Linked DNA regions of Homo sapiens: regions 1, 2, 4, 5 and 6 are each linked to region 3. Evidence: fine-mapped expression QTL. A gene starts in region 3. Each other region holds a variant in brackets. All regions are shown on one strand. Distances are between the middles of the regions.

What was found. PIP is the estimated chance that this variant, and not a neighbour inherited with it, causes the effect.
Region 1: its variant is fine-mapped to the expression of ERCC3 in ovary (GTEx, PIP 0.96).
Region 2: its variant is fine-mapped to the expression of ERCC3 in whole blood (INTERVAL, PIP 0.97).
Region 4: its variant is fine-mapped to the expression of ERCC3 in whole blood (TOPMed, PIP above 0.99).
Region 5: its variant is fine-mapped to the expression of ERCC3 in whole blood (TOPMed, PIP above 0.99).
Region 6: its variant is fine-mapped to the expression of ERCC3 in subcutaneous fat (FUSION, PIP 0.95).

The regions. Positions count from the first base shown.
Region 1 is chr2:127,623,074-127,628,147 of GRCh38, reverse strand. It overlaps MYO7B (myosin VIIB), which reads right to left. Exons shown (of 48, transcript NM_001393586.1): 29 at 4,773-4,946; 30 at 3,828-4,055; 31 at 2,613-2,780; 32 at 1,056-1,173; 33 at 838-964. MYO7B-AS1 (MYO7B antisense RNA 1) reads left to right here. Exons shown (of 3, transcript XR_923314.3): 3 at 1-2,151. Among named protein-coding and RNA genes, the nearest start is that of MYO7B-AS1, 5.2 kb to the left of the region's middle. The variant GT/T (reference allele first, on the strand shown) is at 2,509.
Region 2 is chr2:127,359,836-127,364,909 of GRCh38, reverse strand. The region is part of intron 1 of MAP3K2 (mitogen-activated protein kinase kinase kinase 2); the gene reads left to right. It overlaps LOC124906074 (a long non-coding RNA gene), which reads right to left and starts at 2,783. Exons shown (of 4, transcript XR_007087227.1): 1 at 2,688-2,783. The variant A/G (reference allele first, on the strand shown) is at 2,640.
Region 3 is chr2:127,291,769-127,296,842 of GRCh38, reverse strand. ERCC3 (ERCC excision repair 3, TFIIH core complex helicase subunit) reads left to right here and starts at 2,699. Exons shown (of 15, transcript NM_000122.2): 1 at 2,699-2,789; 2 at 3,125-3,330; 3 at 3,997-4,233. The coding sequence starts at 2,762.
Region 4 is chr2:127,253,443-127,258,516 of GRCh38, reverse strand. It overlaps ERCC3 (ERCC excision repair 3, TFIIH core complex helicase subunit), which reads left to right. Exons shown (of 15, transcript NM_000122.2): 15 at 790-1,227. The coding sequence ends at 921. Among named protein-coding and RNA genes, the nearest start is that of CYP27C1, 36 kb to the right of the region's middle. RefSeq lists a silencer at 3,118-3,318. The variant CTG/G (reference allele first, on the strand shown) is at 2,817.
Region 5 is chr2:127,266,074-127,271,147 of GRCh38, reverse strand. All of the region lies in intron 12 of ERCC3 (ERCC excision repair 3, TFIIH core complex helicase subunit), which reads left to right. Among named protein-coding and RNA genes, the nearest start is that of ERCC3, 26 kb to the left of the region's middle. The variant G/A (reference allele first, on the strand shown) is at 2,905.
Region 6 is chr2:127,341,632-127,346,705 of GRCh38, reverse strand. MAP3K2 (mitogen-activated protein kinase kinase kinase 2) reads left to right here. Exons shown (of 17, transcript NM_001371910.2): 2 at 3,512-3,580. The coding sequence starts at 3,577. Among named protein-coding and RNA genes, the nearest start is that of MAP3K2-DT, 43 kb to the left of the region's middle. The variant TG/G (reference allele first, on the strand shown) is at 2,217.

The DNA of each region.
Region 1 (5,074 bases), 330 kb before region 3:
GGGTTGGCTGTGGGCAGATAATGAGGTGGCTGGTGTGCAGTGACACCGCAGGGACACTGCAAAGGTCAGAGCTGAGATGAGCTGCCGGCTCTGCCATGTGCTTACTCTGAGCCACCTAACCTCGGCGTGCTTCAGTTTACTCATCCGCTCATCTGCAGAATGGGTGATGCTGTCGGTACTTCGTGGCATACAGGAAAGTGCCCAGCATGGTCAGCCTCAGTGAGAGGTGGCCAGTGGGGAGTGGTGGCCACTGTACACCTGGCACAGCCCAGAGATGCATGTGCCACTCTGTTGTGTGCTTCAACCAAGGGGCGCTCTGGCAGGGCTTGGGTGGGACTTCCCAAAGGGCATGGAAAAGTTCCCAGTCAATGAGATCCATGGAGACCCATGGGAGTGGGGGTCAGCCCCAGCCTAAGAGGACCCCCAGCCCTGCCCTGTGCCCCAGGACACACCAGGCACTGTCCCTTGTCGCCTTCCCAGACAACCTGTACCCTCCAGGCCACCAGTTCTCGTCCATGACAAAGAAAGGAGCCTTCTAAATAAGTGCCCGCCAGAGGCTGCACGCTTCCCTGCCCCTTCCGGGTGGACCTGGGTTTCAAAGAGAAGCTGCCAGTGCAACGCGTGATGCCCCAATGGAGTACTTCATGGGCAGTACGGCCTGGTGCAGGAGGGTGGGGCTCCGAAGTACAGAAGCCATCGCATACGTAGATTCTTGTCCCTCCACCCCGGCCTGTTACCCGGGACGGCACACTGCCCCTCTCCCCATCTCTCCCCGAGCCCCCAGATGCATCACAAGGACTCAGTGTGTAAGAAGAGATCTTCCCTCAGGGCCCGCACCTGTTGGTGGCCAGACCCATGACCTCTGGGAAAGAGAGTTCCAGCAGCATCTTCTCCTGCTGGTCCAGGAAGCAAAGCCCCTTCCAGTTAACAGCCAAGATCAGCTGCGTCTTGGGCAGGCGGGGGCCTGGCCAGGAGAGACGGCAGTGTGAAGGCTGCATGGGACCCCTGGGTGCCCAGCCCATACCTGCTCCCTGCCCCCTGTCAGATGCCATTACCTGAGAGTGTGATGACTTCGAAGAGCCGGGAGAAGAGCAGCGGCCACTGCAGGCGGGCGGCGTCCACCACCTGCTCTCGCACGGCCAGTGGTGTGACTTGCTTCTGAGTGTATGGGGCCTGAGGGGGGATCCTGGATGTCACCTCCGTCACCTGCCTTCCCTAGTGAATCCCTCACCTAGTGCTCAGGGTAAAAGAGTTGATGGATCCTTCTGAGAAGGCTCTACAAGGCCAGTGTCTGGAGATGGATCCTGTAGGGAGGCACCTGGGACGTCCCCAGGGACTGGTGCAGCCCTATCCTTTTTTTTTCTTTTTTGAGACAGAGTCTCGCTCTGTCACCCAGGCTGGAGTGCAGTGGTGCGATCTTGGCTCACCGCAAGCTCCGCCTCCCGAGTTCAAGCGATTCTTCTGCCTCAGCCTCCCGAGTAGCTGGGACTACAGGCGCGTGCCACTGCGCCTGGCTAATTTCTGTGTTTTTAGTAGAGGGGGTCTTGCCACCTTGGCCAGGCTGGTCTCAAACTCCTGACCTCAGATGATCCACCTGCCTTGGCTTCCCAAACTGCTGGGATTACAGGCATGAGCCACCACGTCCAGCCTGGCGCCACCCTATTCTACCTGGGAGGGGTGTGGGGACCCTTTAGGAGGAGGGAGGAAGGCCATCCCGTCCCCTCATTAGCATCTGTAGGGCGGGGCTGCGCTAGCTGTGGAAGGCGCTGTCTGTGTGCCCCAGCCCAGGCTCGCTCTTGCCAGCCTATGCCTTGCAGGATTGTGACTCGTTCCGTGCAGGAGGGCATCTTGCTCCGAGTCTGTGTCCCGGGTGCCTCTCTTCTTTCTTCTCTGGAGCTCTTCTGTGTCTCTGGGGGCCTCTCTCGGGGACCACCTCTAGCTCCTTGTCTTCCAGTCTCCTTCCTTCCTCTTTCCTAACTCCCCACCTTCACCCGTTCCTCTCCCCAGCACCACTGTGCTGTGTCCATCACCGACTATAATATCCAACCGAACTCTCTTTTCACTGTTGAATACAGCGTTATTTCTTAGAAAAGTGGCTGGGTACTATTCATATACTGGCTTTGGGAATGTAATAAATGCATCAAATCTGAAGGGTGATTTGAAAATATTCGATATGTATCGAATGTTTAGAATGTCCATACACTCTGGCCTGGGGGGTTCCCATGCACCCAGCGAGGGGATGCTGAGGCCCAGAGGCAGGCAGGGGGGCCCCCAAGGCCATGGTATGGTCAGCAGTCAGCCACTGCAGGTGCCCTCTCATCCCAAGAAGCGAGGGCCTGGCCAGACACCACAGTGCAGACCAGCACAGGGACCCATCCAAGATGCCAGCTTGGAAGGAAGAAGGTGGCATGGGCCTGTGACAGAGAGCTGAACTGAGTGGGACTGCTTAAACCTGAAGGGACAGGGCTCTACTTAACTGTCAAGCTGAGGCTTGTTGTTCCCCAGGGG[GT/T]GGGGGTTGTGGGGAGGGAATCCATCTCCTCTGTATACCATGAGCCCCCCCACCTCCCAAAGGAGAGCCCTCGGGTGGGTGCCTGAGCTGCATGCAGGCTGACCTTGGCGCAGGCGGCAGTGACGAGGCTCGCCCACCTGTCTGGGGGCTTGGTCCTGTACAGCTTGTGGGGGATGCAGCTGGGCAGCAGCTCCTGGACAGCCTTGCTCTCTGCTGAGGCGCCGAGCTGCACGTAGCAGTGCCGGGCCAGCAGCTCAACCAGCTCTTCCTCCTGCACAGCCCAGGGCACCCACGGGGGCGAGTGAGACAAGTGAGAGCTCCCCCCTTCCCCAGGATGCCCCTGTCCCGTGGCCGGGCTCTTGCCCCATCACAGGGGAGCTAACCTGTGGCTCGGGCAGGACCTTCCCCCTCCCTGCATGCCCTGACTGGGCCACCATGCAGGCTGGGAATCCCAGAGGCCTTGGCCAGAGCCTCACAGGCCCTCTGCCTGAGGACAACGGCTGCTCTCCAGTTCTGGGGTGGACCCAGCAGGGTTGCTCTGAGTGACAAGGCGTTTCCTCATCTGAGTTCCAGTCCTTGGTTGTCAAGGGAGACCAGTAGCCCCCCTTGCGGAGTTTCTGCTGGGGCCCAGCTGGGCAGCACCCAAGGAGCCCCTTCCCTCTGGAAGACCAAAGCCTCTTGGAGCCTGGTCCCCTGCCACCCCCTGCCCATGCCTCTTCCAGGCGGGCTTCCTGCACTGCTATGGCCGCCTCCAATGGGTCCCGGAACAGCATCTGCCTGACTTGGCACAGGGAGGGTTGTGCCTGCTGCCCCCAGAACTTCAGGGGTACGATCACTCTGCTTTCTCACAATCCCCTACAAAAGAGCTCCCGGTACACTCCGCACGGTCCAGGTGAGAGCCCCTCCCGAGCCCCCCAGTCAGATGAGGGCCCAGGGCTCTGCGGTGACAGGACTTTCCAAGGTCACAATGCCAAGAAGATGGGGAGGTGGGATTCAGACTTAGGTGTTAGGGCTCCAAGGCCATGTTCTTGGCCACCAGATCTCACTGCCCCATAAACAGAGCAGGAGAGGTGAGGCCAGGCAAGGCCTGGGCCCTCTGGGACCTGCTGCCAGAACCACGGACCCCGGAGGCTTGGACATACCTGTGGCCTAAGGGAGGAGGAAACAGAGGCTGGGCCTGGAAGGGACCTACACCCTTGTGACCCCCTTTCCTGCCCCCCCACCTTCTACCTGGCCTCAGAAGCCAGTTGGGTGCCTCCTCTATGGGATGTTTCCTGATGGCAAAGCCTAGGGTGGACCTGGCTCTCAGGCCCCTCACCTTCTCGAAGCTGTACTCGCCAGACCAGACTCCTCGGAGGACTTGGCGGTAAATAAGCTCGGTGCTGACAGGGTCCTCCCGGGAGTCGTGCCAGGGGGTGAAGAATTCCTTCCGGAAGTAGATGCGCCAGGGTGACTGGCGCTGGCTCTCGCCCCTCTCCTGGGCCATCTGCTCACACCGGGCGATGGCATCCATCATGTGGTCGCGCCCGCTGCCCAGGGACCAGAACTGAGGCCAGAGTCGGGGAGCAGGGGTTAGCGGCTGTTGCATGCCCCACCCCACGGGGACGCCCACCGTCAGCGTGTGCACGTAGAAGACAGGGCCTGGGGCCCTTGGAGCCCAGCGTGGGCTGAGTGGACACTGCTGAGCCCGTGTGGACACCTGAAGGGCTTCTCCACACAGCAATGGCCCATCTGCCACTCCCCATTACTCTCCCTGCAGCCCCTTCCCTAAGGAGGCAGACATGAGTCTGGCCGATGTGACTCATCCGGCGCCTCGGTTGGATGACTGGTGTGTGAGTCTGAGGGTGTGGGCGTGGAATTGGGGGTGCCTATGTGGGCGGTGAGGGTCTGTGCTGGTGTGACCCTCCATGTTTGCTGCAGGGGTGTCCACAGCTCCTGGGCATGAGGGAGTTTGGAGCAGGAGACTGGTGTGAGTGCCTGATGTCTGTGCGTGGCTGCTGGGTGGGGGACCAGGTGTGCATGCGGCACTGCTGGGGCTGAGGCGCAGCTGCAAGGTGACCATATGAGTGCGGGAGGAAAGGCTGTTTGCTCTGTGTGTGTGCACCTGCCTGTGCCTGGTGGCTGGGAGGGTAAGCAGTGCTGTGCCTGGCAGCTGGGAGGGTAGGTGGTGGCCGGGCTGGAAAGGTGAGAGGGCTTGAGCCTCAGGGTGCTCTCCCTGGGTGTATGAGGGAGGCGGCTGACGGGCAGGGTGCCTGGCTGGTACCTTGTCGTACACGGCGACCTGGAGGGAGAAGCCCAGGTGGTCGCTGAGGCCCTGCTTGTGAGCGATGTGCATGCACATTTCCCGAGATGTGGAGGCTGAGTCCACGGGGACGGTTAGGCTCTCTCCAGTGGCCAAGATGACTTGGATGGGGATGTGCTTCTTGGACTTGACAGCCTGGGGACAGATGAGATTCAGTTCCCTGGCCTCTTGGAACCTATGGACAGGAGGCCAACCCCCCATCCACTACCTCCCTCCTCTCCCCAGCCCATGGGCCCTGCTTGCCATCCCGTGGGTTCCCAGGG
Region 2 (5,074 bases), 68 kb before region 3:
GTGATCTGCCTGCCTTGGCCTTCCACAGTGCTAGGATTACAGGCGTGAGCCACTGCGCCTGGTCAATAGTAGCTTTTATTAGTAGTCATTGCAGTAGTAATGAGAAGAGATTGAGAAATAGGAGGGGTATATTTTTAAAGATGAGGGGAAAGGTGGAGGGAAAAGAAGATGAGTGCAGAATAAAGTAGAAGACATAGTTCCTATATTTGAGGTTATTGTAGTCTAGTGGCAGAGAGCACATGTAAAAATATGGAATAGTTAGGAAGCTGTTCTATGAGGTAATATCCTTTCAGAAAGGTGACTGTGTGATGAGTGGAGAGATGGCAAGTGCTGTCATTCCAGTGTAGCCAGGGTTAGGTGGTAGTGTATGTGAAATGTCTAGCACATCGTCTGACAGTCCACAGACGATAATTCTTTTCCATTATCGTTTATACATGGTAAGATGACCAGGTGAAGAGGACAGGGAGGGCTTAAGCTGGGCCCTTAAAAGATGGTTTGGACAAGTAGAAAAAAGGAAGCATTTCAGACAGCACAGAGACAAAAAGTAGCTATCAATAAGGCATATGGAACACTTCGTAGTATAACTCAGAACCTATTGACTCCTACTCTTTGCTTTTTTTGATTATCTATTTGCTTCTTTTGGTTATCCGAATGGTTTCCTGGGTAAATTGTTTTGAGATGCAAATTAGTAGTAAGATTTACTAAAGAGAGGGGAGATGGGTATTCAAGGGATGAGCAGAAATCAAGGACCAGGAAGGGGGCTCTATTAATAGCAAGTCCTTTGAGAAAAGCAGATAGGTTAGATTGACTGAAACATATGTGTGCTATATTATGTTATGGTTGTAAGGAGAGTCAAATTTGCAATTTATTTAAGATGTTTGGTAATAGGCTAGCTATGTGCAAAGTACTGTTAGGTGCTGTGGGAGATAGAAAGATACCTAAGTAGTGTTTCCTGGCTGGGCTTGGTGGCTCTTGCCTATAATCCCAGTACTTTGGAGGCTGAGGCAGGAGGATCACTTGAGGCCAGGGGTTCAAGACCAGCCTGGGAAACATAGCAAGACCCCATGTCTAGTAAAAATTGAAAAATTAGCCAGGCATGGTGGTGTGTGCCTGTAGTCTTAGCTACTCAGGAGGCTGAGGTAGGAGGATTGCTTGAGCCAGGCTAGGTGACAGAGTGAGACTCTATCTCTAAAATAAATAAGTAAATACATTTTTAAAAGGTCCTGTATAATGAAGACAGCCAGCTACACAAATAACATTTTTACAAAGCATGGAATGAAGAGGATTACAGGAATTGATTTGAAGAGAATTGGCTAGTCTTGGGTTTTTGTGTTGGAGTTTGAGGTTCAGGCAACGTGTTGACTTCAGAATTCTGACTGAGAAGTACTGTGTTTGATATCATTGGGGAGTTTTGCAATAGAAAGTGTTAAACTCCCATCAGCAAAATATTAATATGTTGTTCAATATGAACTGATTTTGACTGAAGCCTTGGTCATGGTTTTATTATATTAATAAAGTATTAAGGTATAAATTCTGCTTACTTTGGAAGGATTTTTAATTTTTAGAGGATGTTAGCATTTTATCATTTTTAAAATCAAGATTGGTGAGGAGAGCATATTGGCACACAGTAAGCATATGTTAAATGTTGGTTGAAAAAAATAAACAAACAACGAGAGGCAGTGTAATACACAGTCATCCCTTGGTATCTGCGGGGGATTGGTTCCAGAACCTCGACTCCCACAAATACCAAAATCCCCAGTTGCTCAACATCTCTTATATAAAATTGAGTAGTACTTGCATGCAACCTACACACATCCTTCCGTATACTTTAAATTGTCTCTTGATTACTTGTAATACCTAACACAGTGTAAGTGCTGTGTAAATTATTGTTACACGGCATTTTTTGTGTTTTTTTATTGTTGCATTATTTTAAATTAAATTTGTTTTCGATCTCCAGTTGGTTGAATCCACACATGCGGAATGTGCAGATAGGGAGGGCCAACTGTAGTGTGTAGAAGTGGATTCTGCCCAGGATTGGGCTCAAATTCTGAACCTAATAAATGTTAGCTATTTTTTAAATGTTCACTCTGCTCTGGTATTGTTCTAAGTGCTTTACAAATAATATTAAATGTTTGTAACAATCATATAAAGTAGATACAGTTGTCTCCGTTTTTACAGAGGAACCGTGGCACTGACAGCCGTTATTGCTAATTATCGTCCATAAACAGTTGAGTGATGTTTTTGGTAAACCAATTATGGGTTGTTGCTTTTTTTCTAGTGCCTGATAACAGTATCAGGGACAACAGTCAGGGTACAGATTGAGAATTTTTTTTAAAGTCTAAATTTGTTCTAAGAGCTACCTTCTTTCCTCTTTAAAATAATCAAATATAGAAAAAAAATTAAGATTTGTAAACATTTGTAAACATTTAAAACAAATTCCCCCGCATTCTCAGTATTGAGAACTAAGTGGGGTGGGGGAAACCCCTAAGTGTGTATCAACTTAATTTTGTTTAACAAACATTTGCATAATTACTACTATATGCCAGCCTCTTTCTAAGCACTTTACATTAACTTAAACGTTTAACTTCCATAGCAATCTTGAGATACTATTATGCCATAAATCTCCATATTACAAGTAA[A/G]GAAATCAAGGCAAAGAAAGATTAAGTCATTTGCCTGCGGTCACACACCTGGTAAGTGGCAAATGCCGATTTCAGTCCCAAGCAGTCTGGTTCCACCGTCTGAGCTCTTCTTGCTGTCTTTATTTTTGTATGTAACATGACCCACTGAGAGAGAAAGTATGGATGAGTAAGAAGGGATCTGTTAAAAATTACAAATATATTGTCTGAGTAATACCTTAAAAAGGAGAAAAATCAATTTGCCGCTTAGAGTTGAATATTGCCTTTAACACTGAGCTGTTTGGAGGAAGAGAACTGACATCTGATAAGGTGTCAGGTGTTTGTGTTAGGTGTTATATATTATTTTATTCAGCACTTAAAGCAAACCTGTCATATAGTCTCTTCTATCTTCATTTCATAAACAAGGACATGGGTTTGTAATAGCCGAGAGTCACCTATAACTACCGCTAGGTTTTGAACCCAGGTCCCTATGTGACTCTAAAACATTCTACAATACTTTGTGTCCTAAGGAAATATTAAAAACTCAAATTTATTTGCCAAATAAACTACACATTCTTTTGAAATATTAATTCAAGAAATGATAAAACATTTTATCAACTAAAAGACCTTTTAAAACTCGATAAGAGAAAGGAAGCAAATACATCCCAAATGTGATAATTACTAGGACCACAGGGACCACTAGATGAAAATTAGATTTTTCTCTGCCTTTCTGAGGATGTGCAGGCATGTTTACAAATGACTGCCACTTTATGTGGAGTGTGATCATTCAAACAATTTGAGATTACATATGTGGTATGACTATTAAGTTATTAAAACTTAACCAAATTTATTGCATCTATGGAAGTATTATTTCTTTTATTCATTCTGGGAGGCTCTATATTGTTGCTTTTATATTATTACTTAAAATGTTGGGAGAACACTTTTTAAATTCCCTTTTAATTTTTTTTTTTTTTTTTTTTTTGAGACAGAGTGTTGCTCTGTCCCCCAGGCTGGAGTGCAGTGGTGTGATCTTCACCCACTGCAACCTCTGCCTCCCGGGTTCAGGCGATTCTCCTGCCTTAGCCTCCCGAATAGCTGGGACTACAGGCGCCTGCCACCATGCCCAGCTAATTTTTTGTATTTTTAGTAGAGACGGGGTTTTACTGTGTTAGCCAGGATGGTCTCGATCTCCTGACCTCGTGATCTGCCCACCTTTGCCTCCCAAAGTGCTGGGATTACGGGCTTGAGCCACCGCGCCCTGCCTAAATTTGAATTTTATATGGTTTTGAGTAAATGATAGGGTACAAAGTTCAAAATGTTTGGAAGGATACACAGTGAAAGGTCTCAGAACCCTCTCCTCTCTTCCTTTTACCTGCAGCCACCTAATTTTTCTCAGAGGTGACTGGTGTTATGTGGGAAATACTTCTTTGAAATTAACTTCAGAATTTTTGAATACTTGCAATTAGGATATATGTAACCAATGACGACAGATTTGACTTCATTTTTTAAAAACTCAGTTCATTTACGGTCTGGCAAACAAAGGAATCACCAGTTTAAGTAATATATTTTTTAAAAATCAAAAGCAAAGATGTCTGCAGAGTAATGAGATTTGTGGTGTGATTCATAAATTGGCCTAAAATCAATGATCAGAGTTGCAGAGCTAGTAGCATTAAAGAATAATTTTGTAAAATAACTTGAGATAATTAACATACAATAAACTGCACATTTGAAGTATATAATTATGGCAAATTTTGACATATGTGTATAACTGTCAAACTGTCACCCCTAGTTTTGGTAGTTATAAATAAGATAGTGAACATATTCATCATCTCTGAAAGTTTGTTCAGGCTCTTTTGTAATTCGTCACTGTCTTACCTCTATCCGTTGTTCCTAGATAACCAATGATCTGCTTTTTTTTTTTTTTTTAAACCAGTGATCTACTTTCTGTCACCATAGATTAGTTTACCTTTTCTAGAATTGTGTATAAATGGGGTCATGCAGTGTATGTGTGTACTGTTTTTGAAGTGGGGAAGAGTCTAGCTTCTTTCACTCAGCATAATTGAGATTCATCCGTATTATTGTATGTATCAATAGTTTATTTCTGTTTATTGCTGAATATTATTTATTCTACTGTATGGCTGTACCACAATTTGTTTAACCATTTACCTGATGATGGACATTTGGGTTTCCACTTTTGGGCTATTACAAATAAATCTGCTAAGAACATTTGTGTACAAGTATATTCATGTGGACATATGCTTTCATTTTTCTTGAGTAAATACGTAGGCATTGAATGGGTGGGTCATATGGTAGGTGTATTAGTCCATTCTTGCACTGCTATAAAGAAATACCCAAGACTAGATAATTTATAAAGAAAAGAGGTTTAATTGGCTCACAGTTCTGCAGGTTTTATAGGAAGCATGATTTTGGCACCTGCTCAGCTTCTGAAGAGGCCTCAG
Region 3 (5,074 bases):
GCTGCAGTGAGCCCAGATCGCACCACTGCACTCCAGTCTCGGCAACAGCAAGACCCCGTCTCAAAAAAAATAACTTTTTGAGGGGTGGGGGACACAATTCAACCCATAGTCTGTCCTCTGGCCCCTACAAGTTCATATCCTTCCCACATGCAAAGTACATTCACCCCATCTCAACATCAACAAAAGTCAGTCATTCTAGCATCAACTCAAAGTCCAGTATCATCTAAATATCAGTTCAAATCTCATCACCCAAATCATCCACATCAATTGACTCTGGGTTAGGTTTCCTGTTGGAGCAAATTTTCTTTCTATCTATGAACCCATGAGAACAGACAAGTTATCTGCTTCCAATTACAATGGTATAGGCAGAGGATAGACACATTCCATTCCAAAAGGGAGAAATGGGAAGGAAAAAGACTTGGAGGTGCCAAGAAAGTCTGACACCTAACAGGGCCAATGACAGGATTTTAAGGCTTGAGAATAATCCTCACTGGCTTGATCCTCTGTCCTCAGGGCCCACTGGGGTTGCAGCCCCGCACCCTCAGAACTGAGGAGGTGGTGGCCGTGGGTTCAAACCCAAGCCTGTCCCTTTCAGTCCTGTGGTGGCGGAAGCAGCCTCACTGGCCTCTGAACTGCCCCTGCCAATCCCTTTCCTACCTGTGGAATCCTGGGAGTCCAACAGCCTTCCTTCATTTCATCCCATCTATGTACCCTAGTCAAAACTGTCCAGGTTTCTGTGGAGATGGGTGATTGGGTCTATAAGCCACACACCTAATCTCTTGCAAATAAATGGTTGTCCACATCCTTAGTGTTTCTCCAGAGCATACTTTCTCTCTCTCTTTTTTTTTTTTTTTTTTTTTTTTTTTTTTTTTTTTACAATGTGAGTATAAGAATGATCCAAATCTTCAAGTTCTGGTTCCTTTTTGTTGAATAATTCCACCTTCAGTGTATCTCTTCTCACATTTCACTATAAGCAATAAGGAGAAAGCAGGCCTCAGTTTTTTTTTTTTTTTTTTTTGAGACGGAGTCTTGCTCTGTTGCCCAGGCTGGAGTGCAGTGGCGTGATCTCTGCTCACTGCAACTTCTGCCTCCTGAGTTCAAGAGATCCTCCTGCCTCAGCCTCCTGAGCAGCTGAGACTACAGGCGCGCGACACCACGCCCAGCTAATTTTTGTATTTTTAGTAGAGACGGGGATTCACCATATTGGCCAGGCTGGTATTGAACTCCTGACCTTATGATCCCCTGCCTCGGCCTCCCAAAGTGCTGGGATTACAGGCGTGAGCCACCGCGCCTGGCCCAGGCCTCACTTTGAACCATCATGTAGAAATTTCCTCAGCAAAATGTCCAAGCTTATCACTTATAAGTTCTACTTTCCACCCAACAGAATACAATTCAGGCAAGCTCTCTACCACTTGCCTCCAGTTTCAATAACATATTTCTCCTTTCCATCTGAGCCGTCACCAGAATCACCTTTAATGCCCATACTTCTACCAAGGCTCTTCAAGACAATAGAGGCTTTTCTATCATGCGCCTCAAAATTCTTTCAGCCTCTACCGATTACCCAATTTGAAAACCACTTCCCCATTGTTAGGTATTTGTTACAGCAGTACCCTATTCCCCGTACCAAAAATCTGTGTTACGTTCTCCAGAGAAACAGAACCAAGAGGCCCACTGAGCAAGCGAGATTGATTGATTGATTTTAAAGAATTGGCTCATGCAATTGTGGGGGTTGGCAAGTTGGGAATTCAGGTACGAGTTGATGTTGTAGTTTTGAGTCCAAAGGCTGGAAACTCAGTCAGAACTTTCTGTGTTGCAGTCTGGAGGCAGAATTCCTTTTTCCTTGAGAAACCTGTCTTTGCTCTTAAGGCCTTCAACTGATTTGGATGAGGCCCACCCGCATTATTGAGGGTAATCTGCTTTATTTAGGCTGAGACATGAGAATGGCATGAACCCGGGAGGCGGAGCTTGCAGTGAGCTGAAATCGCGCCACTGCATTCCAGCCTGGGCGACAGGGCGAGACTCCGTCTCAAAAAAAAAAAAAAAAAAAAGAAAAAAATTTTTTTTGAGACGAACTCTCGGCCTGTCGCCCAGGCTGTAGTGCAGTGGTGCAATCTCAGCTCAGTGCAGCCTTTACCTTCTGGGTTCAAGAGATTCTCCCATCTCAGCCTCCCAAGTAGCTTAGACTACAGGCGTGTGCCACCATGCCTGGCTACTTTTTTTTGTATTTTTCGCAGAGATGGGGTTTCACCATGTTGGCCAGGCTGGCCTCGAACTCCTGACCTCAAGTGATCCACCCACCTCAGCCTCCCAAAGTGCTGGAATTACAGGCGTGAGCCACCGTGCTCAGCCAAATTTTTTTTAATTAAAAAAAAGAATTCTTCCTTACCCATGGACTCAGGTCACATTCTCTCTCTCTCTCTCTCACACACACATTTATTGCCCACATGGCTTCATTAAAATTTAAGTTCCAGAAGGATGAGGCCTTTAATTCGCGCACTACACAGGTGCTCAACACACAGTATTTTCCTTCAGTTGTAGAGAAATGAACAGTGGAGGACCCCCGCCGCTGGGTCGCACGAGCTAACAGATCGGCGGTCGCTGGCTCTCCGCTCTTCCAGCCACCCACATCACGGCGCCTAGAGGCGGGACATCCTGTGTGGACAACAGGGAGCTTCCGGATTGAGCCGGAAGTCCCCCCAGAGCGGATGCCGCGGCGGGCCTGTGGGAGCGGGGTCATCTTCTCTCTGCTGCTGTAGCTGCCATGGGCAAAAGAGACCGAGCGGACCGCGGTGAGACGTTGCGCGGGCACGCTCAGCCACGACTGCCCTTGCCGGCCCTGCCCCCCGCTCTGCCTCGGAGCTGCTCCGGGCCTCTGCGCCGGCCGACCCTGCTGGCCCTCCCGCGCGCACCCCGTTGGGACAGGCCTTTGGGCGGGAGAGATGCTGGACCTGGGCGCAGCCCAGCGAACTCGGCCTAGGGGAGACGGGTGAGGGGCGCAACGCCTGCGGGATGCAGGTGGCTCTTAGCTAGGAGTTTGCGGCGGCGCAGGTGAAATGCTGCCAAGCGGTGCGGAGGGAACCCTGAAGGCTCCTGCTGGGCTTACTTCTGTGTTGGTATCTTGCAGACAAGAAGAAATCCAGGAAGCGGCACTATGAGGATGAAGAGGATGATGAAGAGGACGCCCCGGGGAACGACCCTCAGGAAGCGGTTCCCTCGGCGGCGGGGAAGCAGGTGGATGAGTCAGGCACCAAAGTGGATGAATATGGAGCCAAGGACTACAGGCTGCAAATGCCGCTGAAGGACGACCACACCTCCAGGCCCCTCTGGGTGGTAAGCATGCCCTTAGCTTGGGCAGGGCCCAGGAGTGTGCGGAGCGGCAGCTAAATCTTGGGCATCCTCAGAGTCAAAACTGACATTCAGGATACTGCCCCTAGAACTGGCCGGGAGAGAATTTTCATCCACACACGTTGGAACAGCCCAAGGCAACAGCGAGCAGTTGCGCACACGTGTGGCGGCCGGACCTGGGCTTCCAACAGCTCTAACCCCTCGGTTTACTCTCACTCCTTCCCCAGCCCTACCCCATGTAGTGAATCCTTTTATCTGCCGAATAAATAGCATTTATCATGTAACAGTTTGTTTCCTCAAATAATGGAAGACATGTTCGGTAGCAAGCTTTTGCTCTACTTTAAATAATTAATGTTATACATTTAGTTGAAATCTAGCCAAAAGGTAACTTGAGGATAGCCAGTAAGATGGGCTTTCTCTGTGCAGAATAGTAGGAAACAGCTGTTGACTTTGGAAACACTTTCTTCTATTTTTCTTTACTCTTCTGTATCTGATTAATGTAACAGGCCCCACAGTTGTCTGAAGGAGTGCTTGCAAGAATATCTGTGGTGTTGGGCAGCTTATTCTTTCTTGATAATGATATGGGCAAGAGCCCAGTAGTCTCTGCAACTCATGTTTCCTTGTCTGTTTTGTCCATTTGGTATCTCTCAGGCTCCCGATGGCCATATCTTCTTGGAAGCCTTCTCTCCAGTTTACAAATATGCCCAAGACTTCTTGGTGGCTATTGCAGAGCCAGTGTGCCGACCAACCCATGTGCATGAGTACAAACTAACTGCCTACTCCTTGTATGCAGCTGTCAGCGTTGGGCTGCAAACCAGTGACATCACCGAGTACCTCAGGAAGCTCAGCAAGACTGGAGTCCCTGATGGAATTATGCAGTTTATTAAGGCAAGTGACAGCTGAGACCAGCAATTCCACCTGCCCTGCTAATGTAACAATAGGCATAGGTGCTCCATGTTGTCAGCCTGTGGCAGCCATGAGAATGTGCCATTCAGATTTCCTGTGGGGAGCATAACGACTGATTACCCCAGCCGCTACACTCTGGATCCAGCATTGTGTTCTGGGTGAGGCCATGCTTCTCATGAGCCGCTACACTCTGGATCCAGCATTGTGTTCTGGGTGAGGCCACGCTTCTCATGAGCCGCTCCCAGCTGTGGGTATTAACACAGAGGGGCTACTAATTCAGGCCCATTGTAGCCAGGGAGAATTTGGAAATGCAGCCCAAAGTGAGTGTGCTGGGGACTGAATTGTGTGTGTTCCCCTCAAATTTTGTCTTCAAAACCTAATATCCAATGGTAATGTATTTGGAGTAAGAAAGTAGTTAAGACTAAATGAGGTCGTGATCCGCTATGATTAGTGTCCTCCTAAGAAGAGACACCGGAGCATGCTTTCTCTCACCTGCCCTTCTTGTCATGTGAGTACACAATGGGAAGGTGGTCCATAGACAAGAGCCTTCACCAGAAACTGAATCGGCTGATACCTTGATCATAGACTTTCAGCCTCCACAGCTCTGAGAAAATACAGTTCTAATGTTGAAGCCACCCAGTCTGGAATTTTATTATGGCAGCCCAAGCTGACTAACACAGGTGGTAAACTCTGTCTAAAGCTAAGTATCTGCAGGAGACCAATAGTCAACAAGTTCCATGAGGGAAAGTCAAAAACAACTTCAGATGTTTTTGACAAAACAAAGAGGGTTCCATGTGATTAATAGTTGAACATGCTAGGTTTC
Region 4 (5,074 bases), 38 kb after region 3:
GGAACCCAGGAGAGTGCTCTCATTGCTCTCACTGGTTTTAAGGAGGTGCCTGGTTCATTCTCCTCACAGGATAGCAATGTCAGCACTGATGTGGTTATCCCCATTTTACAGATGAGGTCATTGAGGTGCAGACATTAATTACTTGCCTCAGGGTTACTCAGGGACAGGAGGAGCCAAGAGTCAAGCCCAGGGCTTTCTGTCCTTCCACTTGATTCAAAGCCTTATGGTGGTGTCTCAGGAGATTTTAAGGAACTTTTGCCCTAACTGTTAAAAAATTCTGTTCAGGCCAGGCATGGTGGCTCATGTCTGTAATCCCAGCACTTTGGGAGGCCTAGGCGGGAGGATCAGTTGAGTCCAGGAGTTTGAGACCAGCATGGTCAACATATCGAGACCCTGTTTCTCTCTTAAAAAAAAAAAGTTTGTTCAGAAGTTGTTATTAAGTGAGGTAGTGTGGCATTATGGTTAAGAACAGTCTGAAGCCAGGCTACCTGGGTGTTCAAATCCCATCTCCTTAAGAGCTATGTGATCTTGGATAGGTTAGTTAATCTCTCTGTGTCTCAGTTTCCTCTTCTTTCAGGTGTGGATTATAGTAGTTTTGAGGATTAGAGGAGATAATGCATGTAAAATGCTTAGAACAATGCCTGAGACAGTAAGCGATCTGTAAACATTATTAAAAATGATGTATTAAATTTATGTAAGTCTTATAAAATTTGCTGTGATTATAAGTATTATAAAAGGAGTATCTTTTCTTCTGGAGACTAACATGGGCTGGTTCCCCCTTCCCGGCAGGCATCTCGGCGCTTTGGCACCATGAGTTCTATGTCTGGGGCCGACGACACTGTGTACATGGAGTACCACTCATCGCGGAGCAAGGCGCCCAGCAAACATGTACACCCGCTCTTCAAGCGCTTTAGGAAATGATGCTTAGGCAGGGTACTTCGTTCAAGACCGGCGCTTGGCACCCTTGTTGGAAAGGGATTTTCAGCATAACATTTTCCTTCCACCTCTTTGACCTTCCCTCCAGCGTTGGCCAAATTGTGCTGAGGAAGATGCATCAAGGGCTTGGCTGTGCCTTCATAGGTCATCTAGGGTTTTATAAAGGAGGAGGAGACAATATTTTTTCAAACTTTTTGGGGAGTGGGGTCATTTCTGTATATAAAAAATGTTAATATTTAAGGTGTATTTATGTTACCGTTCTGAATAAACAGAATGGACCATTGAACCAGTCTTCATTGTACAAGTGTTTTTATGCTTCGTCCTGGGCATGGGTTATGTCTGGATGACCAACCTCCATCAAGGCCCTACTTTGTAGCAAGCACAGATGAGTAAGATGGAGCCCATCCCCAGGGAGCTACCAGAGAGATGTACCCTGAGATAGAAGAAACGTTGGCAGGAAAGGCCTGGGGAACGGGGAGGGTGATCCAGCCAGAGGGAAGAGCCTGGGTAGTTGACTGTGGTCCCTGCTCACAGCTTAGCCTGGTGGATTCAGACTGGGGCTTCAACCGCACAGCTTCCTGCTGTTCTGGTGGTCACAGCTGTTCCTACAGCCTCGTCCGAGGTAGACACCCACGTCATGAAGGCCTTCCAGGTTGGCTCCTGGTGCCTCATCTTCTCTGAGAGAGTGACCTCTTGTTTCTCCCTCAAAGTACGTTTTTAGAAATTGCTGAGAGGCTAGATTCCTCTTCTAATAGCAGTTTAGTGCCCTTGGGTGTTTTAATTGCTACTTCCTTTATTTTTAATGGCTTTGGGCTTTTCTTTTATGTTCCTGGTATGAAAGCAAAGGTGTTGAGGAATAGACAGGCCAGGTAGGATTGCTTCTTGAAAGGTAGGCACACATAAGGCATATTCGCCTTGCAGAAAGACTTGTGATTCTGAGGAGGAAGCCCACTCTGCCTGTAACAGGAAACAGCGCTCACACTTGGGGAGTGTTGAAACCCTGGCTACATAAGGCTTCCAAGTGGAGTCCCTCCCCATCCCCACAGCTCGGCAGCAGCTTCCTGTCCTCAGCTCTAGCACAGGTGGGCTACTCTCTGTGATGCAGCCACAGACTGAGGAGAAGAAAGTATTAGGTTGGTGCAAAAGTAACTGCAGCTTTTGCCATTACTTTTTTTTTTTTTTTGAGACAGTTTCACTCTTTGTCCAGGCTGGAGTGCAGTGGTGCGAACTTGGCTCACTGCAACCTCCACCTCCCGGGTTCAAGCGATTCTCCTGCTTCAGCTTCCCAAGCAGCTGGGACCGCAGGCGCCCGCCACCACGCCCAGCTAACTTTTTGTATTTTTAGTAGAGATGGGGTTTCACCATATTGGCCAGGCTGGTCTCAAACTCCTGACCTTGTGATCCGCCCGCCTCGGCCTCCCAAAATGCTGGGATTACAGGCTTGAGCCACCACACCTGGCCACCATTACTTTTACTGGCAAAAACCACAATTACCTTTGCACCAACCTAATACCTCTCTTATCAGGGGGCTTTGAAGCAAGAGCCACCTGCCCCACATACCGCCTCTCTGAGCTGACCTTTTGGTGACAAACACACTCTCATAGTCTGGTCAGTAGCTGGTGCTGCCAGGCATCTAGCCACTATCAGTGCAAGCCCCAGGAACCAGCAACAGGGCCCTCGCTAGGAGTAGGGGGCCCGAGCAGCCCTGTCTGAGGTGCGGGCTTGAGCCCACAGACTCGCCTGTCATGTAACCCTGATGGGTCGGCACTCAAATGTTCAAACTTGACTGTAACTCTTTTCAGTCTACCTCCTGTCTTGCCTTTACACTTGAGATCCTCAAACAATACTGAGCATTTCCTGTATTTTCACATTTCTGGCCC[CTG/G]TTTTCTTGTCTACTGACAATGTTGAATTTTACCTGAGCACTGTGATCCTAGGAAATAGATACATTTAAAGGAATCCCTTGTCCTTGGTGTTCTGGAAAATGGCTTACTGCAGAGAACCATCCTTCCTGGTATGACTCATGAATGCTCCCCTTGAAGACCCCAGTCGAGGCCAGACACAGGCCTTCCAAATTCCCATTCTTTGCCTCATAAATTAGCTAAACTGCTTGTCCCCAGTGATCAATGGGAACAAAATGCTTGTGAACCAGACTTTGCTTTACAAACTTTGGCTCACCCTCCCCTCCACCCCTCGAGAGAATAGACTGGACTCAGGGTAAGTCACTGATTGGATCTACTGTCCCACCATGCTACTCCCCTTCATCCCACTTCCTGTCTTTTACTTGCTTCCCCTCCCTATAAAAGAAAACCCCTTTTGTCTAACCCTGAGACAAACAGATCTTATGTTCAGTGCATTCTCCCTGCTGCAATAGTACACCCCTCCCCACCACTTTGCAACAATCCTTTCAAATAAAGTCTCCCTTTACTAAGTCCAGATTTTTTCTTCTTATTTTTCTTAACATTGTCTATTCTGTGAACTTGAGTTCCAGATTTTTTATTTGACATCATGTAACAAGTTTTTATCTAAATTTCCAAATGTCTGTTGGTAGTATATAAAAATATAATTCATTTTTATATATCAGTTTTTATATATCATTCCTCAGTCATGCTAAACTCAGTTCTAGGAAATTTTTCTGTAGATTTCTAGAATAAGTAGACTAAAATCAATGAAGATATAGAAGACTTGAACAATGCTATTAACCAACTTGACCTAATTGACGTTTACAGAATTCTCTACTGAGTAACAGCAGTATAAGCATTATTTTCAAATACACAGATCACTTGCCAAGACGGAATCAATTTCAGGCCCTACAAGTCCATTGGAAAGTACATTGGTAAGTATTTAAGCCATACAAGCTGTAATCTGTGCCCACAGTGTGATTAAGTTAAAAATCAATAGAAAAAGAGTCTGGAAAACCCTCAAATATTTGGAAAACGTGGTGGTTAATTTTAGGTGTCAGCTGAGTTAAGGGATGACAGGTCACTGGTTAAGCATTTTTGGGTGTGTCTGTGGGCATGTTTCCAGGAACGAGGAGCATTTGAAGCTGTAGACTCAGATCCACCCCCACCAACGTGGGTGGGCCTCATATACCCATCAAGGGACCAGACAGAACAAAAGGATGGAGGAAGGGTGAATACAAATTGCAGAATACAATATTGATACATTAAAAAAAAAATCAATTGGCCGGGCGCAGTGGCTCACACCTGTAATCCCAGCACTTTGGGAGGCCGAGGCAGGTGGATCACCTAAGGTCAGGAGTTTGAGACTAGCCCGGCCAACATGGTGAAACCTCATCTCTACTAAAAATACAAAAAAAATTAGCCAGGTGTGATGGTAGGCGCCTGTAATCCCAGCTACTCAGGAGGCTAATGTGGAAGAATCTCTTGAACCCAGGAGGCGGAGGTTGCAGTGAGTTGAGATCACACCACTACACTCCAGCCTGGGCTACAAGAGCAAAATTCTGTCTCAAAAAAAAAAAAAAAAATCAATGATCTTTTTATATACTTAGAGACAAACATTTGGAAGTTGAAACAAGAATACTATTTACAATAGCATAAAAATATGCAATGCTTAGGGATTATCTTATGAAATATGTAAATTCTGCCTGTATTAGCCTATTAATTTAATCTTTTTTTTTTTTTTTTAAACAGGATCTCACTCTGTCACCCAGGTGAGTTCAGTGGCACAATCAAAGCTCACTTCAGCCTTGGCCTCCTGGGCCCAAGCGATCCTCCTGCCTCAGCACCCCAGTCCGACCCAGTAGCTGGGACTACAGGCACCTGCCATCATGCCCGGCTAATATTTTTTTTTTAAATTTTTTGTAGAGACAGGGTCTCACTATGTTGCGCAGCCTGGTCTTGAACTCCTGGGCTCAAGTGATCCTCCTGCCTTGGTTTCCCAAAGTGCTGGGATTACAAACGTGAGCCACGGCACCTGGCCGGTTTAACCTATTTTAAATCAAATTCTTAACCAGATTTTTCATGGAAACGTACAAACTAATGGTAAAATAAATGTCAAAGAATAAAGAAACAAAAATATCAAAGAGAATTTATAAGAACAGTGCAGTAGGCACAGGAACAGAAAAATATACCAGTGGAATGGAATACAGAGCCTAGAAAAATATTACTGAGAACTTGAT
Region 5 (5,074 bases), 26 kb after region 3:
CAGGTGTTTTCCATGACAGTGTCACGGAATCCACACAGATGTGCTCTGTACACTGTGCAGCTGTGTTGGTAGATGGTGAGAGGGAGCCAGGGCAAGGCAGTGCTTATGGGGTAGACATGGAAGGGAGAAAACAGAGCTGGGCCACCAGTGTAAGTGGAGGAGCTGGAAGCTGCTTCTGGAACTTGATCAGGAGGCAGGGAAAGGTTTGGTAGGAGCAGCTTGGGCAGACACACAATGGGCACGTCATTCATAACCTGTGCAGAGTGCCGCCCTGGTGGCAGCTTGCAGCAGGGGCAGGGCAAGCTCAGTGAGTGAGGAGGTGAGAATCCTCATTGCAAAGGCTTTTTCTGAGGAGGCGTGGCACCCCTGTGCTTGCTTACTGCGGTAAAAGGGCCCAGACTGCCATTGTGGACATGGCAGGGACTGACACTCTTGCTAAGAGATGGCCGTGTCTGTCTTACTGGGACCAGGGCACATCCTGAGACAAGGACACAAGCCCTATCCTCAAGGAGTCTGCTTATTCAAGGAGGCATCTGGACTGCTAGAATGTTTGAAAATGACAAGATTAGTGGGCATCTGTTGGAACTGTACTGCGTTCAGATGTGTTTAAGAAGCGTCTAGTAGCTTGTATTTAAAATGGAGATGAGGCAGATAGCATGGACTAGAAATAGCATGGACTCAGGCACCAAGCCAGCTGTGTCACCTTTGGCAAATTATTTTCTCCTCTGAGACTTGGTTTTCCCATCCAAAGTGGGGGTGACAATCCTGTCTTGCCAAGACTGCTGTGAGGATTCAGCTTATAAGTCATAAAATGTAGTCGGCTGGCTGGGCACAGTGGCTTACACCTATAATCCCAGCACTTTGGGAGGCCAAGGCAGGAGGATAGCTTGAGCCCAGGAGTTTGAGACCATCTTGGGCAATGTAGTGAGACCCCATCTCTACAAAAAATAAAACTAGCTGGGCGTGGTGGTGTGTACCTGTGGTTCCAGCTACTTGGGAGGCTGAGACAGTAGCTTTTATAAACTGACAGGACTATGATCTGCTAGCAAATGTGAATATAATTCATTACTTATTCCTTACTCTAATTTGAAAACTCCTTTATTGATTGATTGATTGATTGATTGATTGAGATAGAGTCTTATTCTGTCACCCAGGCTGGAGTGCAGTGGCACAATCTCGGCTCACTGCAACCTCCATCTACTGGGGTCAAGTGTGATTCACCTGCCTCAGCCTCCCGAGTACCCGGACTACAGGCGTGCACCACCACGTCCAGCTAATTTTTTTTGTATTTTTAGTAAAGACGGGGTTTCACCATTTTGGCCAGGCTCGTCTCTAGTGATCCACCCACCTTGGCCTCCCAAAGTGCTGGGATTACAGGTGTGAGCCACTGTGCCTAGCCTTAAAAACTCCCTTAAATGTGAATAGAAGGCCAGGCGCGGTGGCTCACGCCTGTAATCCCAGCACTTTGGGAGGCCCAGGCAGGCAGATCATGAGGTCAGGAGATTGAGACCATCCTGGCTAACATGGTGAAACCCCGTCTCTACTAAAAATACAAAAAATTAGCTGGGCGTGGTGGCGGGTGCCTGTAGTCCCAGCTACTCGGGAGGCTGAGGCAGGAGAATGGCGTGAACCCGGGAGGCAGAGCTTACAGTGAGCCGAGATTGCGCCACTGCATTCCAGCCTGGGCAACAGAGCAAGACTCCATCTCAAAAAAAAAAAAAAAAAAAAAAGTGAATAGAATTGTTTTCTTACTCAAAACACTGTTTAACATGACACTTGGCTCCTTTCTTTGCATCTCTGAGCTCTTGTAAGATTTGAGAAACAATTACATTCAAGGGCAGTATGCTTAACCTACTGACATTTGAACTACAAAGCAAAGATGTTCAGATTTTCCTGAAGGATCAAGTCTTTCAGGCCACAGAATTTTCTGTCCTAGTTTTTTAATACAGTAGTCCCCCCATATCTGCAATTTTCCTTTCCACATTCAATTACGCATGGTCAGCTGTAGTCTAAAAATATTAAATGGAAAATTCCAGAAATAAACAATTCATAAGTTTTAAATTACACACTATTCTGAGTAGCATCCATGATGTGAATTCTTGCTTTGTGCGGCATATTCATGCTTAAATTCTCCCCACCCATTAGTCACTTAGTAGCCATCTCAGTTGTCACGGACTGTCACTGTATCTCAGTGCTTGTTTTCAAGTAACCTTTATCTTACTAATGGCCCCAAAGCACAAGTGTAATGATGCTAGCAATTCAGATATGCCAGAGAAGCTGTAAAGTGCTTTCTTAAAGCGAAAAGGTAAAAGTTATTAATTTAAGCAAGGGAATAAAAATCATATGCTAAGGTTGCTAAGATCGAGGGTGAGAATGACTCTTCCTGCTGTACAAGATGATCATCCCCAGAGCACATAGCCGTCAGACTTTCCAAGGTCAATACAAAAGAAAGAATCTTAAAGACAGCTAGAGAAAGGGTCATATAACTCATCATGCTAACAGCAGACTTCTCAGCAGAAACTTTACAAGTCAGAAGAGATTGGGGGACTGTTTTTAGCATTCTTAAAGAAAAGAAAAGAAATCCTGGCTGGGCACGGCGGCTCACACCTGTAATCCCAGCACTTTGGGAGGCCAAGGTAGGCAGATTGCTTGAACTCAGGAGTTTGAGACCAGTCTGGGCAACATGATGAAACCCTGTTCCTACAAAAAATACAACAATTAGCTAGCTGGGTGTGGTGGTGTGCGCCTGTAGTCCCAGCCACTCCGGAGGCTGAGGCAAGAGAATCGCTTTAGTCTGGGAGGCAGAGGTTGCAGTGATCTGACATCTCACCACGGTATTCCACCTTGGGCAACAGAACAAGATCCTGTTTAAAACAAAAACAAACAAAAAAACAGGCCAGGCGC[G/A]GTGGCTCACACCTGTAATCCTAGCACTTTGGGAGGCTGAGGTGAGTGGATCACCTGAGGTCAGGAGTTCCAGACCAGCCTGGCCAACATGGTGAAACCCCATCTCCACTAAAAATACAAAAATTAGCCGGGCGTGGTGGCAGGTGCCTATAATCTCAGCTACTCAGGAGGCTGAGGCAGGAGTATTGCTGGAACCCAGGAGGCAGAGGTTTCAGTGAGCCGAGATTGCACCATTGCACTCCAGCCTGGGCAACAACAGCAAGACTCTGTCTCAAAACAAAAAAACAAAAACCAAAAAACCATAGTGAGACCCAGTCTCTTTAAGAAAAAAAATAAAAAAGAAAAATCCTAACCAAGAATTCCATATCCTGCCAAACTAAGCTACATGAGCAAAGAAGAAATAAAATCTTTCCCAGACAAGCAACTGCTAAAAGAATTTGTTATCACCAGACTGGCCCTACAAGAGAGTCTTGAGAGTTCTAAACATGGAAATGAAAGAATGGTGACACCTGCTACCACAAAAATACACATAAGCACATAGCCCACAGACCCTGTAAAGCAACTACACAATCCAAACTACAGAGCAACCAGCTAATGACACCATGTTAGGAATAAAGCCTCATGTCTCAATATTAACCTTGAATGTAAACAACCTAAACACCCCACCTAAAAGACTTGGAGTGGCAAATTGGATTAAAAACAAGACCCAGCCTTCTGCTGTCTTCAAGAGACCTCTCTCACATGTAACAGGACTCATAGGTTCAAAGTAAAGGGATAGGGAAAAAAATCTATCACACAAATAAAAAAAAAAAAAGAGTGGGGCAGGGGGTCACTATTCTTGCATCAGATAAAAGAGACTTTAAACCAGCCACAGTAAAAAAGGACAAAAAGGTCATTACACGATGATAAATGGTTCAATTCAACAAGAAGACTTAACTATCCTAAATATATATGCGCCCAACATTGGAGCACCTAGATTCATAAACCAAGTACTTTTAGAGCTAGGAAAAGGCTTAGACAGCCACACAACAATGGTAGGAGATTTTGACACCCCACTGACAGCATGAGACAGATTATAGAGGCAGAAAACTAACAAAGAAATTCTGTACTTAAAATTCAACACTTGACCAATTGGACCTAATAGGCATCTACATAATTCTCTACGCAACAACCACAGAATATATATTCTCATCTGCCCCCAGAATATACTCTTAAGATTGATCACATGGGCCTGGTGCCGTGGCTCACACCTGTAATCCCAGCACTTTGGGAGGCTGAGGCCGGCAGATTGCCTGAGCTCGGGAGTTTGCAACCAGCCTGGGCAACACGGTGAAACCCCGTCTCTACTAAAATACAAAAATTAGCTGAGTGTGGCGGCATGCGCCTGTAGTCCCAGCTACTCGGGAGCCTGAGGCAGGAGAACTGACTTGAAGCCGGGAGGCAGAGGTTGCAGTGAGCCAAGATCATGCCACTGCACTCCAGCCTGGGGAACAGAGCAGGACTCTGTCACAAAAAAAAAAAAAAAAAAAAAAAATAATTGATCATGTGTTTGGCCATAAAGCAATGTGAGACTTTATGCTCGACTTTATTAAAGTCTCAATAAATTCGGCAGGGTGTGGTGGCTTACGCCGATAATCCCAGCACTTTGGGAAGCCAAGGCGGGTGGATCACGAGGTCAGGAGATCGAGACCATCCTGGCTAACACAGTGAAACCCCGTCTCTACTAAAAATACAAAAAATTAGCCGGGTGTGTGGTGGCAGTTGCCTGTAGTCTCAGCTACTCGGGAGGCTGAGGCAGGAGAATGGCGTGAACCTGGGAGGCGGAGCTTGCAGTGAGCCGAGATCGCGCCACTGCACTCCAGCCTGGGCAACAGAGCGAGACTCTCTCAAAAAAAAAAAAAAAAAAAAAAGACTCAATAAATTCAAAAAAGTCGAAATCATACCAAGCATTTTCTTGGGTCACAGTGGAATAAAAGTAGAAATCAGTACCAGGAAGAACTCTCAAAACCACACAATTGGCCAGGCACAGTGGCTCATGCCTGTAACCGCAGCACTTTGGGAGGCCAAAGTGGGAGGATCATTTGAACTCAGGAGTTCAAGACCATTCTGGGCAACATAGCGAGACCTCATCGCTAAATAAAAGAAAAAAGAAAAAAAAAAACCCACACAA
Region 6 (5,074 bases), 50 kb before region 3:
GGTTTTTGTTCTTTGTTCTGTTAATGTGGTTTTTTACATTGATTGGATTTTATGTGCTGAACCAACCTTGATTTTGTTGGATATATCCCAAATGTGCATGGTATATAATTTGTTTTTTAATGTTCTAGGTTAGGTTTGCTAGTATTTTATTGAGGATTTTTGCATCTGTATTGATGAGATATTGATCTTTAGTTTTCTCATCTTGTGATGGCTTTGTCTGGTTTTGGTATTGGAGTAATACTGGCTTCACAATGAATTGGGAAGTGTTCCTTCTTTTTTTTTTTTTTTTTTTTTTAAAACCAGTTTTTGTAAATTCTGTAAATGTTTGAAGTGATCTGGTCCAGGGCTTTTATTTGTGAGAAATTTTTCATTTCTAATTTAGTCTTTTTACTTTTTATAGGTCTGTTCAAATTCTTAATTTCTTCTTGATGAGTCGATTTTGATAATTTGTTTCTTTTTAGGAATTTGTCTGTGTCATCTCAGTCATCTAATTTGTTGATGTACAGTTGTTAACAGTATTCTCTTATCCTTTTTATTTCTGAAAGGTTGGTGTAATTGCTCCCTTTTGAATTCTTGAATTTAGTTATTTGTGTTTTCCCTCTTCTTTTTTTGATTAGCTAAAAGTTTGTTAGTTTTGTTGATCTTTTCAAAGGGCCAATTTTTGTTTTCTTGATTTTTTTTTTAAATTTCAGTGGTATTTTTATTTTCTACTCCCTATTCCTTTAGCTTGTTTCAGATTTAAATTGTTCCTCATCTTCTAGTATTTTAAGGTCAAAGGTTAGGTTATTGATTTGACATCCTTCTTGTTTGTCAATGTAAATATTTACAGTTATAAATTTTATCTTTAGATGCATCCAATACATTTTGTTTTGATGTGTTTTCATTTTTATCTCAAAGTATTTTCTAATTTTCCTTATGCCTTCTAGTGACCCATTGATTATTTTTATGTTTTTTAATTTTCACATATTTGTGAATTTTCCAGATATCCTTGTGTTGCCAATTTCTAATTTTATTGCATTTTTGTCAGAGAACACACTTTGTGTGATTTCAATCCATGTAGTTACTGAGATTTGTTTTATTACCTAATATTTGGTCTGTCTTGGAAATGTCCTATATGTATTTGAGAAGAGTGTATATTCTGCTGTTTTGAGGTTGATTATTCTGTAGGTGTTTGTTAAGCCTAGTAGTTTATAGTGTTGTACAAGTCTTGTATTTCCTCATTGATTTTCTGTCTACTTATTTTATCCGTTATTGAACGCAGGGCATTGAAATCTCCAACTTTTATTTTTGAATTGTGTTTCTTCCTTGAATTTTATACTTTTTTGCATTGTGTATTTTGCGATTCTGTTGTTAGGTACATATAAGTTTATAATTGCTATATCTTTTTGATGTATTGGCTATCTTTCATTATAAAATGCTGTTTGTCACAACAATTTTTGTGTCTGTTTTGCCTGATAGTGGTGTAGCCACTGCAGGTCTGTTTTGACTACTGTTTGCATAGTATATCTTTTTCTATCCTTTTACTGTCAACCTATTTTGTCTTCGAATTTAAAATGTGGACCAGGTGTTGTGGTTCGTAGTCCCAGCACTTAGGGAGGCCAAACTGGGAGGATCACTTTAGCCCAGGAGCTTGAGACCAGTCTGGGTAATCTGTACAAAATCTTTTTTTAAAAATCAGCTGGGTGTGATAGCATGCACCTGTAGTCCCATCTACTCGGGGGTGCTGAGGTGGGAGGATTGCTTGAGCCTGGCAGATCAAGGCTGCAGTGAGCTGTGATCATGCCAGTGCACCTCAGCCTGGGAAAGAGAGCAAGACCCTCCTCCTGTCCCCCAAAAAAAGTGTCTGTTGTAGGCAACATATTCAGGTCAAAATGTTTGGGACCAGAAGTTTTTTGGATTTTTTTCATGTTTTGTAATATTTGCATATACATAGTGAGGTATCTTGGGAAAGGGACCCAAGTCTAAACATGAAATTCTTTTATGTTTCATATACATCTTATTCATATAGCTAAAGGTAATTTTATACAATTTTTTAAATGTTTTCGAGACAGGGTCTTGCTCTGTCACACAGGCTGGAGTACAATCATAGTTCACTGCAGCGTTGACCTCCCTGGCTCAAGCAGTCTTCCCACTTTAGCCTTCCAGTTAGCTGGGACTACAGGCATGCACCACTACACCTGGCATTTTGTTTTTTAAATCTTTTTTTTTTTTTTTTT[TG/G]GTGGAAATGGGAGTCTCCCTATGTTGCCCAGGCTGGTCTCAAACTCCTGGGCTCACGTGATCCTCCCACCTTGGCCCCCCCAAATTGCTAGTATTATAAGTGTGAGCCACTGTACTAGCCAACAATTTTTAAAATAATTTTGTGTCTGAAACAAAGTTTCTATTATTACCCTTGTAGGCCTCTTGCATGGGGGAATTTGGGCATGCATGGAAAAGATATATTACAGTGGAAGGGGCTGGTAGGGTCTCTTTTCTCCTGGGGGATGCTGAATAAACTGAGTTGTGCATCTGCCTTTTGACTGTGACATATCACATGAGGACAGGTTTGTGGAATTTTCCATTCATAGTGTCATGTTGGCACTCATATTTTTCATCTTATTTTCTAGTTGACCTGGGGATTACAGTTAACATCTTATAATAACATAGTTTGAGGTAATATCAACTTAATTGCAATGGTATACAAACACTTTTTTTTTTCTTCTAGGCAGTCTCGCTGTGTCGCCCAGACTGGAGTGCCACAGCTCACTGCAACCTCAACCTCCCAGGCTCAAGTGATCCTCCCACCTCAAGCCTCCCAAGTAGCTGGGAGCTACAGGCATGCACTACTGCACCCGGCTAATTTTTGTATTTTTTTGTATAGATGGGGTTTCACCGTGTTGGACAGGCTGGTCTCGAACTCCTGGGCTCAAGCAATCCGCCTGCCTAGGCCTCCCAAAGTGCTGGGATTATGGCATGAGCCACTGCACTTGGTCATAAACACCTTTCTTTTATGTAACTCTATCCTTTCCCTTTCCTGTGTGCTGTTAATATTATGTGAATTATATTATTATATATTGTATACCCAGCAACACAGTTATAATTATTGCGTTATGCAGTTTTTTTTTTAAACCAACATATTAGTTTCCTATTGCTGTTTATATAGAAAAAGAGTTAATGTAGTGGGCCTGATTGCTGATTTGTAGAAGGCCTGCTTAGGAGTTAGCCTTTGGCTGACACCTGAGAACTTGGATTTCAGGAGAGTTCCTGCCTCCAACTGATAATGGTTTGTACAAACACTATGGTTTATGCTGAATACCTGCTTTTCTTCTGGGAGTCTGGAATTTTGGTATGTGTTAGGCAAGGGGGTGCCTACATGATCAACCTTCAATATAAAACACCTCCCCCTAGCGAAATGTGTAAAGTATTCATATTGTATATTTTTCATTAGTATTATTTAAACTGACTTTTTTTTTTCTTTTCCTGGCTCCTTTTCTGTTTCTTTTTATTAATATGCTGATCTGTTTTATCTTCTCAGGCCATAAAGAATGCTGATGGGAGAACCATTTTCCTAATTTTCAAATTGTTGAGCTGTTTGCCATAATGGGTGAGTTCAAACTAAAAGCATTTTTCAGCAATAATTAAAGGATAGAATGGAAGTGAAAAAACTTTCTCTATTATGTGTTATTATAAACCTTTTTATAAATAAATTTTATGATATAGCAGATTTATGAAATGTTTTATATTTACTTAATAGACTTTGAATTAAAGTACTTTTTGTGTTGCTGTAGTTTTAGAATGATCATTTTATGCGTAACAGCAGGGACATTCAAAATAAGCTGTTAAGATGTGTTGTGATTTGCTTAAAGTCTGATGGCAAGAGAGAAATCATAAAATTTAATTTTATCATTCATAGAGCAGCAAATCATTGGTGCTCAGGGAGAATATGTTATACAACTCTTGGTCGTATATTGTGGTATAATGTTAGTTTAAAGACACTAAAGTATGGGAATGGATTGTGTATGTTCAGTTTACATATTTTGTTTTCCTGTTTACCTCCTTTTTGTTTTTTCCTTTTCTCCTTTGTGTTAAGGGTTCCAGCATGAGGCAGGGAATTAGTTAGACAGGAAGACACTAGAAGGAAATGGAGTCACGAATGGCCCACCCTATCCTAAATCAAGAAAAATGGTACTGAGTAGTTGGATGCTAAATTTTGAAACTTAGACTGATCCTGGGATTTAATTCTGACATTTGCTTGCCAGAGTTTGCCTTTATCACACATTTTCTACTTCTTGCTTAACAAAACAAATACACACACACACACACACACACACACACACACACCCTCATGAAGAACTTATATTTGCCCATGTGATGAAAGTGGGGGCTAGGACACTTTCACTGTGTGTCATTGTAGCAAGTATGTAAGCTTAGACTTCACCTCCCTACTTTAAAAATTGTTCTTCCACTTCCTCTTCTGTAGTCATGAGTAGCAGTGCCCCCTTGTAGCCCAAATTCTCCACTCTAGTCAGCCTTACTTTCAGCTCCAAATTGGATGTACTTTTACTGAACTTCTTTCAACTTTTTATTTTGGGTGCTGTCACTTGTACTCTATGTATCGATCAAATTTATTTTTGTCAGCCTCAAATAATACTGCTCTATAGTAGGGCAACATTCATTGCTTAAAAACATACAAAGTTAGTCACAGAACACCATGACAGATGTTTGAATTTTTGATTGAGGATGTTCTTCTGTAATTATTTTTCAAATATCATGAATAAGCATATAAGGTATTTAATTCAACATTTCTGATAAAAGATTTTTGAAAAAATTATTTTCCAAGTATTTTTTGGTTTTGTGCTCAATTCAGTGTCCTTCCAACATGTGTCAGAAACCCATTGGGCCGGGCGTGGTGGCTCATGCCTGTAATCCCAGCACTTTGGGAGGCCGAGTCGGGTGGATCACGAGGTCAGGAGATTGAGACCATCCTGGCTAACACAGTGAAACCCCATCTCTACTAAAAATACAAAAAATTAGCCAGGCATGGTGGCGTGCGCCTGTAGTCCCAGCTACTCAGGAGGCTGAGCCAGGAGAATGGCGT